Regions from separate parts of the Homo sapiens genome. Here all the other regions are linked to region 3. The links come from fine-mapping of genetic effects on gene expression. A gene starts in region 3. Each other region holds a variant in brackets. All regions are shown on one strand. Distances are between the middles of the regions.

What was found. PIP is the estimated chance that this variant, and not a neighbour inherited with it, causes the effect. A credible set is the group of variants that fine-mapping cannot tell apart.
Region 1: its variant is the best candidate, but not a certain one, in a credible set for the expression of TADA1 in prefrontal cortex (ROSMAP, PIP 0.74).
Region 2: its variant is the best candidate, but not a certain one, in a credible set for the expression of TADA1 in aorta (GTEx, PIP 0.76).

Annotation. Positions count from the first base shown.
Region 1 is chr1:166,793,496-166,798,722 of GRCh38, reverse strand. It overlaps the pseudogene CNN2P10. Among named protein-coding and RNA genes, the nearest start is that of POGK, 43 kb to the left of the region's middle. The variant G/A (reference allele first, on the strand shown) is at 2,813.
Region 2 is chr1:166,844,293-166,849,519 of GRCh38, reverse strand. It overlaps POGK (pogo transposable element derived with KRAB domain), which reads right to left. Exons shown (of 6, transcript NM_017542.5): 3 at 2,782-2,908; 4 at 1,928-2,026; 5 at 1-582. Among named protein-coding and RNA genes, the nearest start is that of POGK, 7.4 kb to the right of the region's middle. The variant A/T (reference allele first, on the strand shown) is at 2,649.
Region 3 is chr1:166,873,346-166,878,572 of GRCh38, reverse strand. TADA1 (transcriptional adaptor 1) reads left to right here and starts at 2,309. Exons shown (of 8, transcript NM_053053.4): 1 at 2,309-2,413. The coding sequence starts at 2,340. RefSeq lists an enhancer at 1,923-1,972 and silencers at 2,373-2,422, 2,453-2,852.

The DNA of each region.
Region 1 (5,227 bases), 80 kb after region 3:
GGCCCACAAGTTCTGAGTGGTTAGCTCATAGAGTGATGGATAGCAAACTTTTGATTAAATAATAATCATGGTGAGGGAGTCTTATTCCTATAACTTCCTGATGAAAACCAATCACTTCCTCCCCCTCAGCTTCTTTATAGAAGAGTCCATGTCTTCAGATGCTTCTCTAGAAGATTTAGGTTTGTCCTAGAATGCAGAGACAGCATGCAGGAACCTCCGAAAATTGTGTAACTAAAAGGAATTCTGAATTGTCATTTTTATTATTAGCAATCTCAGTCCTATGGTTACAGGAGATAAAAGTTTTCTTCAGGAAACACATAGGAGATTTCAGGTCATTTACGAGGTACTTGAGGAATTACAATTCCTGAGTGTCTCTTTTTTTGTGACCACTTTGTCCACAGACATTAGGAGCAACCAACCAACTTCATATATTTATTAGTTTTGCAAACATGTTTGAAAGTTTTACATACACAGTCACCTAACTCCTTGCTTTTTGTAAGTGGTCGATTAGGAGTATCCGATGGAGATATTTTGCAAATTTCTATTGCTAGATCATACCATGGATTATCAGTGTTCTCTTTACTCCTAGAAATAGAGTCATTGGCATTTTTGTTTTTATTTATTTATTAATAATAGTTACTATTCTTATTTCTTCCTAAAAACAGAGGTTTCTATTGCATTTGGTCCACAGTTGGTATTTCACATTATTTAAGGGTGCAGGGCTCTTGGCTGGGGCCCCTGAGCAGTACTTGGCAGGGCTTGTGGTGGGGGGAGACGGAGCCTTGCAGTTGGTTAGTCCCAGAAGGGGAGAAGGAGGGCTGGGGGCTCCTTAAAATCTGATGAGGGACACAAATGGGGGGGTTGGTGAGCATGGGGAGGGGTCAGGCTTAGCCCCAATTGACTCACTACCCCATTGTCTTGCATAAGCCTGTTTCCCCACCCGGCCCCTGTGCAGGTCTGAGGGTCCTAGGGAAATCCAGTCACTCATGAGCCTAAGATATTTTAGCATCCTGGCCTTGGCCTTCTCCCAGGGCACCCATTTCCCAGCACCCTCTCCACTGTCCCCGCCCCATTCCCTAGGAAAAAAGAAATATTTTTCTTTTGTTAATACTTCTGAAACTTCTGTAGGTACAGAAACCACAAACTGATAGGTGGACAAAAGGGAAAAGGAGAAGCAACCGGAAACCTCCTGCTGCCGGCTCCCCTCGCTGCCCAGACCTCTTCTCCCCTGCACCGCTCAGCCCACAGCCTGAATGTGCCCTGGCAACGACCCCCACTTCACATTCATCCAGATACAGCCTTGACCCCTTCCTCCCAAGCCCGGTGTCTCAGTCCTGTGAAGGAATTAAGGCAGGAGGGAAAAAAAAATTAAAACAAACAAACAAAAATAACCCTGCTGCTTGACCCCACGCAGCTACTCACAGACCCTCGGTTGGCAGCACTGAACAGGTTAAAAAAAAAAAAGAAAGACGAAAATACAGGAAAATCCCCCAAACCCAGACAGGGCGATGATGTAGGGAGCCAGCATGTTCGGGGGCCTCAGTAGTGGCCTCCTCCTGGGAGCAGGGGGGATCCTCGGGGGCCTCCCCTGGTCCTGGGCAGTTGCCGGCATCCAAGGGAGCCCCACTGGCTGCAGGCCTTGAGGGCAGTACTTGGGATAGTATATCTGCTGGCCCAGGCCAAAGCCCTGGACGCTGTGGTTGGCACTCTGCGTGTCACCCATATGCAGGGACATGGAGGAGTTGTCACACTTGTGGGCTCCCAGTTTGGTGTTGTAGATGTGCTGCGGGGTCCCGGGAGCCGTCATGCCCCCTGGCTGGAGCGTTTGTTTGCACCCATCTGGAGGCTGATGGTCGAGTGGTCCAGAGGGCAGGATACGGTTCTTGGGGTGGTAGAGATGCCTCATCGTGCCCTAAGTTGTCGCGCCCGACTGGCAGGCACATATGTTGGTGCCCATCTGCAGCTCAGTGAGGCACTGGCTGGCCTTCAAGGTGGCGTCGTCGAAGTTCCGCTCCTGCTTCTCCGAGTATTTGACCCCGACGTCCACCCCATTCTGCAGCAGCTTTGTCTTGACCTTCCCTGCCAGGGCTAGAAGAGACAGCTGCACCTGCGTCATGTTCCTACTCTCAAACAGGTCGTTGGCCTCGAACAGGTCCATGGGGTTCATGTCGTATCCAACCATGGCCTTGATGAAGTTGGAGAGATTTTCTAGCTGGTGCCAGTTCTGCATGAGCCGTTGATCTTGGGGACTGAGCCCAGCTTGTTCATGAGTGTGCATAAGACAATCCCTTCCTTCAGACTCTTCTGGAAGTCGGGGCTGAAAGAGAGGCGGGTGAGTCCCTCGATCCAGCTGCAGAGCGCCGCCTGCTTCTGAGGGTCGCATTTGAACAGGAGCTGGTTCTTGATCTCGGCAAAAAGCTGGTAAGAAGGCCCCTTGTTGAACTGCGTGGAACTCATGGCTGATGGGAAGGGACAGGGTAAGATGGACCCATTAGCATTTTAAAATCTAATTGAATTACAGCGCCAATTCCAGAAACTCTAGAACCAATTCAGAAAACATATTCTCAGAAAAAACATTCTTAAATTTCTTCCTCTGGAATCATTCTTAGTACCAAAATCTATACTGGTTTGAGTTCTCCAGAGAAATAGAACTAAAGGAAATATCTACATATCTATATATTTATTGATATATAAAGTTGTTTCTTTCATGGGCCTGGAGTACGTGGGTCCAATCATTAGATATATAGATGGAGGGAGGAAGAGAGAGAGAGAGAGATTATAAGTAATTGGCTCATGAAGTTATGGAGACTGA[G/A]AAGTCCCACAATCTGTAGCTAGTAAACTGGAGACCCAGAAGAACCTATGGTATAGTTCTAGTTTGAGTTTGAAGGCCAGAGCACCAGGAGTGCCAGTGGTGTTTCTAAGTTTTGGTCTGAGTCTGATGACAGGAGAACACCAATGTCCCAGCTCAAAGACAACCAGAGAGATGAGAGTAAATTCTCCCTTACTACACTTTTTTGTTCTATTTGGTCCTTCAGTGGATTGGATGAAGGTCATCCACACTGGGGGTGGGAGTGGAGGGCAGGCAATAGAATGTGGCAGAAGTGATGTTCTGGGACTTTCAAACCCAGACAACTGGCAGTATCAGTTTTTTTCTTTGGAGGAAGATAGCATATTATAAGGAAGATTGGACTATTGAATAATGAGAAACTATGTGGAGAAAGAGAGTGAGATAAATTATGTGGAGAAACACCAAGGAATCAGACATGTGAGTAAAACCTTCTTGGATATTCCAGCCCAGCTAGCCACCAGGTGAATGCAGCTGAGTTATCCCACCTGTTGCCATATGAAGAAAGAATGCTTCAGCTGAGGCCTGCCTGAATTCCTATCCTATAGACTTGTAAGAAATAATAAACCATGGTGGTTTAAGCTACTAAGTTTTGGGGGTGATTTGTTACACAGTATAGATAGTTAGAAGGATACAGCAATGGTCCCATAACAATTGAACATCCAACATCAAACAATTTGGGGTTCTTATGCCACTAAACCAACAAGCGGAGAAGAGGATTACTGTATTGGCTGGGGTGACTGCTCTCAGTTAACATTGGGAAATGGAGTTGCTGATACACAACAGAGATAGAGAAGACCGTGTCTGAAACTCAGGAAATTCACTGGACATTTTCTGAATGAAAAGCAAATCCTTGGGATGATTGTTGCAATTTGTATCACAAGAACATTTGGTAATCTTTATTGAATTTGCTTAAGAGAGGAATTAGAGTGATACTGATTATTTTTAGAATTTTGAATGTCTTTTTATAGAAATGAAGAAATATTAAATGTATATGATAAAATTATATATTGATTATAAACAGGAAAATATTCCAAGTATCTAGGTCCCTAAGATGCAGTTATTCTAACATAGACTTTTAGGTTATTTTGTTATTGTTGGGAAACTGTACGGAGTATTAATTTCGGGGCCAGATAGAAAATATATCAAATATATTAAAAGTTATATATAGTAATTACTGTATAAATCATAAGGAAGGGAAAACAGGCAGAGTTGTTAAGTAGGGAAATTTGATAGAAGCAGGCAAACGAGGGCAAGAAGTAGAGGAAGAAAAAAGAGAAAAAGCAAATGTTAGGTATGAGTAAGAACAAAACTAACAAGCCCCAAGTTCTCAAAGTTGGCTCAGTGTAGGAACCCTGCAGAACCTTTAGCTTGTTTCTCCCTGTGTCAGTTCATTCTTCTTTCTGCTGAAAGTTATTTTATCAAAATACTTCTGATTATGTCATCTCCCTGCCCCAAAGCTTCAGTGATGCGCTCTTGCCCTCACCACAATCTAACTTTTGAACCATTCTCTTCAAGCCTGGACTTCAGCCTCCCCTCCCAGCTTTTTCTCACCCACTCACCAGAGTGCACTGACTGAATTCCCAAAAGTAGGACCCGTTCTTTAATTGCCTTTGTGTTCACAAAGATGATGGATTCAAATCACAATTCTCATTAGGATGTGGATTGGATGTAAAATCTTGTCAATACTAGAAAAATTGTCACTTGCACAGTGGGGAATCCCTAGAGGCTAGATTTAAACTGTAGAGACATGGACTAGTTTTGTCTTGTTTTCTTCTATGATTCCAGTGTCTAGCACATAGTAGGTACTTGAATATATTCATTGAATGAATGGCTGAGACTTTTAGAAATATGCTTTTTTGACCTTAATTTTGTGTGAGACAGTAACGAGAAGGTAAAAAGAGGTCTTTCAGTTTGTGATCAGCTCTTGGGAATACTTACAGCTTCAAGAGGTTCAGTTTAGGCTATAAAATATCCCACTTGAAAAAAGAAAGCATGGGATCTTCTTCAATTAATTGGTTGATCAAATTAGGACTTCTGGGCCGGGCATGGTAGCTCATGTCTGTAATCCCAGCACTTTGGGAGGCTGAGGTGGGTGGATCACCTGAGGTCAGGAGTTCGAGACCAGCCTAGTCAACATGGCGAAACCCCGTCTCTACTAAAAATACAAAAAATTAGCCGGGTGTGGTGGTGATCACCTGTAATTCCAGCCACTCGGAAGCCTGAGGCAGGAGAATCACTTGAACCTGGGAGATGGAGGCTGCAGTGAGCTGAGATGTGCAACTACATTCCAGCCTGGGTGACAGTGAGACTTGGTCTCAAAAAAAAAAAAAAAGAAAAAAAAATTAGGACTTTCCACTTCTTCATAGAGCCAAATCTACA
Region 2 (5,227 bases), 29 kb after region 3:
TCATTCTTCGACACCAACCCAAGCTTGCCTTGAACCCTTTCTCTGGAATGTTCATTTCCTGGGCGATTTCGAGAGCTTTCAGCTGCATCGCCTCCCGGGTGATGGGGTCCCCTTTGGCCTGCATGTATCTGACATATTCGGCCACACGCTGGTCCACCAGAGCAAACCTCCCATTCTTGGGGCCTCGGAATGCCCGCCGCATGGCGTGGGCGTTTTGAAGCTGTGGCTTCACTTTGCGCCAGTCTCGAACGTTTTTTTCCAATACTCCAAACTGCTTGGCAGCCTGGCAGTTGTTGGTACTCTCAGCATATTCCACTACCATCAGCTTGAACCCTGCGTCGTAACTGCGGCGCATGCCCCGGCTGAACTGAAACTTCCCAGCTATGTCATCAGCCGAGAGGTCATACCCTGGGAAGCCCATGGCCATGTAGAAGGGGTACCCCTCACTCCACTCGGGCAGCTCTGTGATATCCCGAGGCAGACGGAGGCCAAAGCTGTCAAAGTGCTGAGGCTGAGGAAACTGGGAGGTAGCATTCATTGGGTTTGGCCAGTCTGGAGGCTTTACGTCAGATTCTTCATTTTCTGGGAGACAAATAGTGAGGGGCAAAAATAATGCCAGTAAGTAAAATGGCTTATACCCTGATTTTTGGGGGTTGAAATGCTAAGAATACCTTAATCTGAAGTTCACCAAAAGTAGTAACTTTAATAACAGGTAACATTGCCTAAGTCCTTTTCCATATGCCAATTTATGTGGACTACCCACACCTAGTTCTCTTAATAGAGTAACTCTAAGTATCACTGTTCCTTCTTTGCAGATGAAGAAGGGGAGGCTACAGAGGTTACATAATGCACCAAGGTAGCCAAGCCAGAAAGTGGCAGAGCTGGGAACTCAACAGAGGAACCAAGCTTGGACCAAATAATTTGGGGGCCATGTTTGCATCAAAATACTTTTTATGTGAATGAGAAGCCAAATGTTAACCATACTACCATATAATATTACAGAGATGCATCATGGCCTGAATCATATCCCTTTAGAACCAAGAAAACCTACAGCAAAAACCACACTTAGCAAAGTTAAGCTTATAAGGCAGAAAATTAGTTCTTGCACATTAATGGTGCAACCAGGTTTCACTTTATATTTAGAAGGTGGTCACAGAAGTTGAATATGATTTGGGGAAATTACCCTATCTCACCCAAACTAAAATGTCATCAGTTGTAGGATGCATCATTATGTGCCATTAAGAAAGAAAACACTACTAATTAAGCTATGACATGCCACTGATTTTAAGAGGCATTCTCAATTTCAGAAACAGTAAAGCAATGGGAGAAAAACATGTCTCAGAGTCAGTGAAATATGGCATTTTAAACTCTTACTTCCGGAGAAAAGATAAAACTATTTTGGCCGTCTGGAGGCAATGCTATATTTATTCAACTGTGGCCTCAATAACCATTTTTCTTGACAAAGGACTAGGTACTTCTTAGATACATTTGCTCAAATGTATGCTATGATTGCTATTGCTTTTTCTATCCAGTATGAGATGGACAGGGAGCCAGGTAACTCAGGAAGTGTGCTTCCTCTCACTATTCTTAGTTTGCAGAGGCACATGGTACGCCACTGAGGGAGCCCTGTTCAGCCAGAAGGTGCACTAGACCAAATGCTGCACAAGCCTCATTTTGCTTCATCCACAAACAAGGTCATACATCAAGTCTTGTTACTCAGAGCTGATAGAGGAAGAATGGAAGCTCTGAGGTAAAAGCAGTTGCCTGTCACACACTGTCACACATTTAGCACTGCAAAGAGGGAGATTTCAAAACTCCAAAACCCATAATCCTTCTACCTCTTAAATACCCCGTGGAATGTACACTGAAAATCCCACTCCACAATGTTCCCAGCTGGATGGACGCTGAACTGCTTTACTTGTAGTACCTGCAGAGGTGCCTCCTTGGAGCTGCCACTCGTCAGAATTCTGAGACTCCTCCTCCCCTTCCAAACGGGTGATCATGTCTGGCTTAGGGAATGGGAATTCTGTTTATAGGAAATAAAATAGGTAACAGCTGTGTGTTACTGTCCTGGAGCACTACCAAAATAAGTACTTCAAAATACTTAAGAGCCACTCTCCCCTTCTTTGTGAAAAACAAGGGGAAAAAGGCTCAGGGATACTTAAAGAAAAAAGATAATGGAAAATAGGTCTGTCTAAAGGAATGGGTAGATCTCTCCTAATGAGGGATGGTATTGGCACCAACAATAAAAGAACTGCATTTAGCAGGGAGAAGGGTGAATGCAGCTGCTGATCCAATTAACATTTTGGTACCTGTATAAGCAAACTGGGAAATCTCTTCAAATGATTACATTCTGCTGATAAGATGTGTGATATCAATTTGGGGTGGAAGTTGGGGAGAGGAGCAAACAGTCTTTGGGAGGGTATGTCCCCAAACTTCTGAGGCTGACAGGGTAACATTAACGCCTGCCTTCTCTCGTAAGGAACAGTGAGGCACAGGCCCAGATCCATGGTGACATTTCTAAGGTTACATGGTTTTTATCCTTAAATGTGAATGCCTGGGTTGAATGGGGGCAGTTCTGAGGCAGCACGGATTGCCGAGTAGGGTGACACAATATTGATATACTGCCCAAATCAAAAATTGGAATA[A/T]ATGGGCACAGACATTGAGGAGGCAGAGTCTAAGTTCAGGAGAGAGGGACATTGGATATACCAGAGAAGAGAGGCATGGAAACAATTCTCTGGGCTCAGAGCTTCCAGGAGACAAAGGAAAACACAGCTTTACCCAGGGACAGGACAGTTTCATAATTCATCCTCATGACTTCCCGGTAGAGGGCCTTTTGTTGCTCCGTCAAAACTTCCCATTCCTCATCGGAAAAATATATGGCCACCTCATCAAATAGGGCCGGTACCTGGAAGAGTGAACAGCCCTTTCACAATGACAAACAGGCATATGCAGACAGACTTTCAGAGCGGACAGGACCTTACAGACAGCCCAGCACAGCCTGTCCTCTCACAGGTCAGGTGAGGGACCCTGACCCAGGGGAAAACGGACTGTCCACATTCATACAGCTGCTGGAAGCCAACAAGGGCAAGAGCACAGTCCTTCTGTGCCCACCACAGCAGCTGCCACCCTCAGTTCAGATAAGGTAAGCAGCACTTTGAGAAGAAAACTAACTCCCTACCATGATCACCGGTTGGAGGACATGGGACATCGCACCCTCATGCACTGTGGTGAGAGCTGCTCACGGCTCACCTCTGACCCAAGACTTAAGCCACCCACACCCAGACAAAGTGTCCCACCAACACAAGCACCCCCAATTCCCTCCCACCCCAGAAAAAGACCCTCGGCCCCGGGCGGGGTGAGTTGGGTTTGTAAATCTGAATAGGATCACTGCCCTCCGTGGGATCTTTGTGGGTTTCCAGGGCACTGCATTTCCAAGGGTACTAACCAAAGTGTTAGACTTGGAACCCACAGCTGCCCAGGGAGGAGCCACTGAGAGAAGGGGCCCTATTTGGCCTTTCCAATCCACAAGAGCATGAAGAGGAAGAAAGAAGGGCTAATTACAGCTTAATATATGTAATGAGATGCCAGAGCAAACTCATTCACTTTGATCCTGGACCAGGTAGGCAGAAAGCCCAAAGGACTGCATCCCTCCCCTGTTCCTCTGCTTCCTGGCCCAGCACCAGGGGGCTCCTCAGTAGCCCAAGGCAGCCAAGCCACCCAAACCAACCTCCTCTTTTTGTTTTTAACTGTATTTCTTATTACAGTCATTAAAAATCCTACTCCAAAGCTCATCCTATTTAGTGATAAGAAGGCACTGGATGGCTTGTTTCAGGCTGGTTATTTTGTATTCTTGCCTTCAAAGCTATTTCCCAAAGCTGTATCTTGGGTCTGGGTGATTATGATACTGTTTTTCCTTAGCTTAGAAAATTAGTGTCCATATGCTATATAGCCTGCAGCCACTTCAGGGGTCAGGCCAACAGTCACTTACATACATTGGCCTTTCCTCCCTGACCCAAGGAAGCCCCCTTGTTCTCTCCCCACCTCCACAGCACCTCATACATAGGAAGCACGTACTAGGAAAGGGCCTGTAACTGCTTCATTTATTCCCTGCAATGGGCCTGTGGAGGAGTAGATACGCCTATTTTTTTTTTTTTTTTTTGAGATGGAGTCTTGCTCTGTTGCCCAGGCTGGAGTGCAGTGGCACGATCTTGGCTCACTGCAACCTCTGCCTCCTGAGTTCAAGCCATTCTCCTGCCTCAGCCTCCCTAGTAGCTGGGATTAGAGGCACAAGCCACCATGCCCCTACTTAATCAAGGAGAATATGGGCTTGGAGAGGTCTCATTTCCAGGCTAATGTCATAGCCAATAAATGGTGGGGTTGCGTTTTGGGGCCACCACCGCCTGACCCCAAGGATCCAGCAATACCGAGCACAGCTGCCTCCCTGATGACTAACCCTCAACTCTCCCCAGCTCTGTGCTCCACTTGTACTCAGCTGTGTGCAGTTCCCTGAACAACCATTCCCCAACGCCCCCACACCTTGGCCCATATTCTCCCCTGGCCTTGGAGGGCCTCCCCTTTCTTGGTCTGGCTGACACCCACCCATCTTCCAGGACTCAGCCCAAAATCCCTGCTCCCGAGGAAGCCCACTCTGTGCCACGCTGTGAGCACACCCACATGTCCCTGAAATGTCCTGGGCTCCACACTCCCGGGGCACTCATCACACTGCAGAATTCTTTTGGTTGACTTGTCTGCTCCCTCCACTAGAATCTGAGCTTGTTGAAAGCAGGACCTGTACTTACTCCTTTTTGCTTCCCTAAGCCGAGGACACTTCCTGTAGCTAGTAGTCACTGAAAAATGTGCTTTTGAATATACGATCTAGGCAAATCTCTGGATTTCCCTTCTCTTGTTCTACTTGGAACTGTTTCAAAGAATCATTAAATTTTATCTGTCATAAAACCAAACCTACTCTTTGGAGTAAGAATGGACAAACATCCCTAAGTGTGAAATATGAGGAGGTAAAATGGATTCGTCTTCAGGCTTTCCTCAGACTTCCTCACCCTGGAAAGCCAGTCAGCCCAGGAATTTTCCACCCTACTCCTTTCCCAATTCCCAGGCTTTTAAAGAACTGTCTCTTTGGCCTTTTTTTCTCCCTGGGAAGTTCCAGATCTAGGTCATACCTATTTATAGTCCCTTTCCCTTTGCTGATAAAATGGGAACAGGACTG
Region 3 (5,227 bases):
TGCGTTTACAAACCTTTAGCTAGACACAGAGCGCTGATTGGTGCGTTTTTACAGAGTGCTGACTGGTGCGTTTACAAACCTTTAGCTAGACACAGAGCGCTGATTGGTGCGTTTTTACAGAGTGCTGACTGGTGCGTTTACAAACCTTTAGCTAGACACAGAATGCTGATTGGTGTGTTTTTACAGAGTGCTGACTGGTGCGTTTACAAACCTTTAGCTAGACACAGAACGCTGATTGGTGTGTTTTTACAGAGTGCTGATTGGTGCGTTTACAAACCTTTAGCTAGACACAGAGCGCTGATTGGTGCGTTTACAATCCTTTAGTCAGAAAAGTTCTCCAAGTCCCCACCCAGCCCAGAAGCCCAGGCGGCTTCACCTCTCAATATTAAATTGTTTGGTCAGATGTCCATTTATGTATATTATATTGTCTAACATTACAGTTTAAATGGACATTTAACTGAAAAACTGTAGTAAAATTAGTGTTAATAGGTGTATAAGTGCTGAGAGAGAAAGGGATATTTAATTGAGCTAGACGTATGAGTATTGTCAAGCATGGGTTCAAAAAGAAAATCTTTGAGGCCTATCTTTCTTCGTGGCTAGAGACAAATGAGAAACAGGGATTCTTCCTGGAAGATGTACCCAACTATCTGTAGCCTTTCCTAGTCCTGTTGACTTGATCCTTGAATAGATTCATATATATGTTTGAACCTGATTCAAAAAAAATGGAGGTAGCCAACCATAAGTCTCAAAACCAGCAGAGAGGAGATATGCGTAAAGGGGAAGAGCCATGTGATTTGTTAAAGTCAAGTTAACTAGAATGCTGAGTCCAAGTGTGGGGTTATGTGGGAAGGCCAGTGGTGTGTGAGGTACACAGGTAGGGTGAGTTCAGATCATGAGAACATTTGAATGCTGGAGTCTGGAATTTGTTCAGCAGAGCGTGGGGAGCCATGGAAAACTTAAGTGGATATTTTTTAAATGTGTCAAAACTTACCCAGAGTTTTGACACAGAGAGGAAGACTTTGCCTGACCTTTGTATCTCCTTTCACCTGTGTATCTCCAGTACTCAAAGAGTTCCAGACACATAATAGGAGCTCACTGTATGAATTCAAGTGAAGAGAAGGTGCCCGGCTGGCATTGCAGCCAGGACAGGGCTTGTGGGTTTAGGTTGGGCAGTGAGGAAGTTGAATGAATGAACTTAAGGGGACATCTTTGGAGAAATTACACAAGATCTAAAAGCTATCTAGGATTATTTAAAAAACTTTGGGAGGCAATTTGACAATATACACCAAGGCATTTATAAATATTCCCATCATTTGATCCAGTAATTCTATGTGTGGGACTCTATGCTAAAGTAATAATCCTAAAGGAGGAAAAGTTTTATGCATAAAGAAGTTTTGCTTCATTATGCTATATGCTTCAAAAGCAATATTACAGTATTGCTTTTTAATAGAGAAGAAATGGACACAGTCTAACAATTGGGAAACAAGTTGTGTACCTTCTATCTGTGGGGGTATTTAATATGTTGTCATTAAAATTATTCTAAAGACAATGTAATACTACAGATAAATCCTTAAGTTTAAAAACGTGCAAAATTGAACATAGAATATTTTAAGTCATGGGAGTGTGCGAAGTGAAGGAGAAATCTCTCTCAGTTAAGTGTTTGTCCGGGAGTGGTAAAACACTTTTTCCTTCTTTTTATCTTTATCTTTCTGTGTATTTTCCAAATTTTACATAGTTACCTCATTTACTCAAATACTTATTAAGCATCCACTATGTGCCAGGCGCTGCTCTAGAGAATTGCGGGTAACAGTGAATAAAACACAACTCCTGTCCTCGAGCCATAACATTTACAAGATAAATCAACTAAATGTCATATGAGACGGTTAGTGCTCGGGGAAAAATAAGGCAAGGAAAGAGTAAAACTGATACTGCATTTACTTTTTTAAATGGAGGGGTAAGGTACTCCTCCAGGCAGAAGAACAGCAGGCTGAATTCGGAATTGCCCCAGCGGTAACAGAATGAAAGAGCTTGGGACACGCCAGCCTGTCAGCAACGTTGCAGCCGAGGCGGGGCGCGCGGGTTTAGGATGGGCGCGCGACAAGGTGAAGCGGATCACGTGACTCGAGGGGCGGGAGGAAGAGAGCAGAGTTTGGCCGGGCACCTTCCCTGCGAAAAGGCGGGCGGAGCCGAAAACCAAACAAACGACTTCTGAGAGATTGGGGGCGGGACTGACGGCGGCCGGCTTAGCTTCCAGAGCCAAGGCCTTCCGCCGAGTTGGTTTTTGGGTTGTTGATCGCGGTGGCCGGGCGGTCTGCGGTCGGGCTGAGACACGCGGAGCAATGGCGACCTTTGTGAGCGAGCTGGAGGCGGCCAAGAAGAACTTAAGCGAGGCCCTGGGGGACAACGTGAAACAGTAAGAGCTGCCCTAGCACAGCGTCCAGGCCAACACGCGGGTGCTCTCCTGGCCTCGGGCTGCCAGCCCGCCCCGGAGACGCCCGCGTCGCCCGGGGGCCTGTGCAGCCTGGAGTCCGCGGCGGCGGGGCTTCGGGGTTTCTCCGGCCGGGGCGGGGCGGGCCACCTGAACTCACCGCCCTGGAGAGACCGGGCCTCCTGGGCGCCCGGGAGACATCGGCGGGCGCCGTTGCTCGGGACTGTCTGCCCTGGGTGGGGCGGGAGAAGCGCACTTCGCACCCAAGGGCCTGCTGAGCAGGTGCGGGCCCCAGCGCGGGCGTGCGGGATGCGGGAGGCTGACTTGGGCGGAGTGAGCCGGAGCCCTACGCGTCCAGCCAGAGGGCATAGCGCAGGGCGGCCCGCCCCTGGAGGGCTTCCTGGAGGTGGAGGCCTGTTGAGCTGGTGTGATCTGCTACGGATTATTGGTAAGCTCTTTTGACAGCAATTTCGTAAGGCAGACGGACCCTCTGGTGAAATCACAGTCATTGAACACTACAATTATAGTGATGATAGCAGTAGCGGACATTTTAAACATTTTAAGCTCTCTAAATATATTATCTAATCCTTACAACAGATGTGAGATAGGTACAGTTGTTATTCCCATTTGACAGATGAGAAGACTGAGACCTAGTGCGGACAAGTAACTCTTCAAAAGTCACTGTCAGAGTTGGGACCCACGCTTTTGATTCCCGACTGATGCATTAGAGGGGCTGTAAAGGATCCCAGAGACGCTCAGCCAGACCTTCATCCAGGTTATGGCAGGGGACCTAGTGCACAGTCAGGTTAGGTGCAGAATGGCCAAGGGTAAAATCAGTATCCAGTCAAAGCCAAAGCCAAAGAGCAAAAAAGGAACCTCTGGGATACAAGGAAGAGTTTGGAAATTTTCAAAACGTTGTTATTACAACTTTATTTTTCAAAAATATAGGAAGCAAATATAAACGTTTAAAATTACAGTGCCTGTGTTGTTGCTGCTAGATGGCTTCTCTGGTATTCTACACATTTGCATTACTCAGTGGATGCATACTTTTAAATGATGTTGGTGGAGGAGCAATTTGGGAATACTTAATTTTTCTCCAATACTTTCTTTTCATCCTTCTCTGTTCTTTATTATTACTGGATTGAAATTACTTAGGTTGGATGTCATACATGAATTTTGGAGTTTTTCCTTCATGTGAAATTTTGGGGTGGCAGAGTTGACAGTCTACTTTTCATCCTAACAAGATAATAATGGAAACTATAAAAAGATTAAAATTAAAATCTAAACTGTTATTTTAGCATAATTATTTAATTTTTGGTGAACATTTATTTACGCCCAGAGATATGTTTCACTTTGTGTTTGGGGGTTGGGGTCTTGCTCTGTGGCAGAGGCCGAAGTACAGTGGCCTGATCACACAGTTCACAGCAACCTTGATCTCCTGAGCTCAAGAGATCCTCCCCTGCTGTGAGCCTATAACTGGGACTGTAGGCACGCCCCGCTAATCCTGGCTAAAGTTTTTTTTTTCAGAGACAAAGTCTTGCTGTGTTGCCCAGGCTGATCTCAAATCCTGGCCTCAAGCAGTCCTCCCGCATTGGCCTCCCAAAGTTCTGGGATTACAGGCATGAGCCACCACACCCGACTATAGTGTACCACCGAAAATTGTCTTTCGATATTGATGTTCACTGTGCTTATTGAATTAAATATTCTTACTTATTTTAATAGGTAAAATTGACAGCTTTCACCCTAATTACTGTAGCTTTTTACTTTTGTAATACCGACTGATAAAATTTACCTTTTTTTTTTTTGAGATGGAGTCTTGCTCTGTCGTCCAGGCTGGGGTGCAGTGGCATGATCTCCGCTCACTGCAGCCTCCACCTCCTGGGTTCAAGCACTTCTCTGCCTCAGCCTCCTGAGTAGCTGGGATTACAGGCACCTGCCACCACGCCCGGCTAATTTTTGTATTTTTAGTAGAGATGGGGTTTCACCATCTTGGCCAGGCTGGTCTTGAACTCCTGACCTCGTGAGCCACCCGCCTTGGCCTCCCAAAGTGCTGGGATTACCGACGTGAGCCACCGCGCCCAGCCAAAATTTACATTTTTAAGCACATAAGGGGCATTTCACTCTGTTCCATCTAGAATGCTTACAAATATTTGAAAGCAAACGTTTACATACCAAAATAAATCTGAAGGACCTGGCTTGTGTATGATTGCCTTTAACCCTGATTAGATGCAATGGTGACCTCTGTCATCCCATACTCATCAGTTACAGGTTCAGGGCTGCCAAAAGTGTTTTTGAAGTTAGCATTCCTTATTTAGTTTTTAAAGGCCAAAGCCGACTGTCTGATGTTGGTCAAATACTGATGCTGAAGCTAAATTTGGTGCATCTGGAGTGTGAATCCCCACTAAAATGCAATCAAAAGAGATTTTTATGCCAGAAACAGTTAATGGTAACGTATAGTTCTAAATTTGTTTTTCCATTCTCTCATTGTTCTTTTCCCTTCTCCTTAAAAAGTACCTCTGGGTTAAATAGTCAGTAATACTCTTGTACTGTACAGTCATTTCTTATATTTCCTCCATGAGCAGTTTGCTTTGGTTTGCACAACCTATTTAAGTGTGGTCCTCGGTGGTAGGCAAAACATACAGGGTTATGCACGGAGGCTGGATATGAGTTATTTGCTATTTATCCAGTGGTCTGAACATCCTTCATGTCTGACTGGTTGGGTTGTGTGCCCAAGCTGCTTCCAGGAAGACATGGGCTTTGCTAGGCAACTCACTTTGTATAGTAGCCAGTAGAATGCCA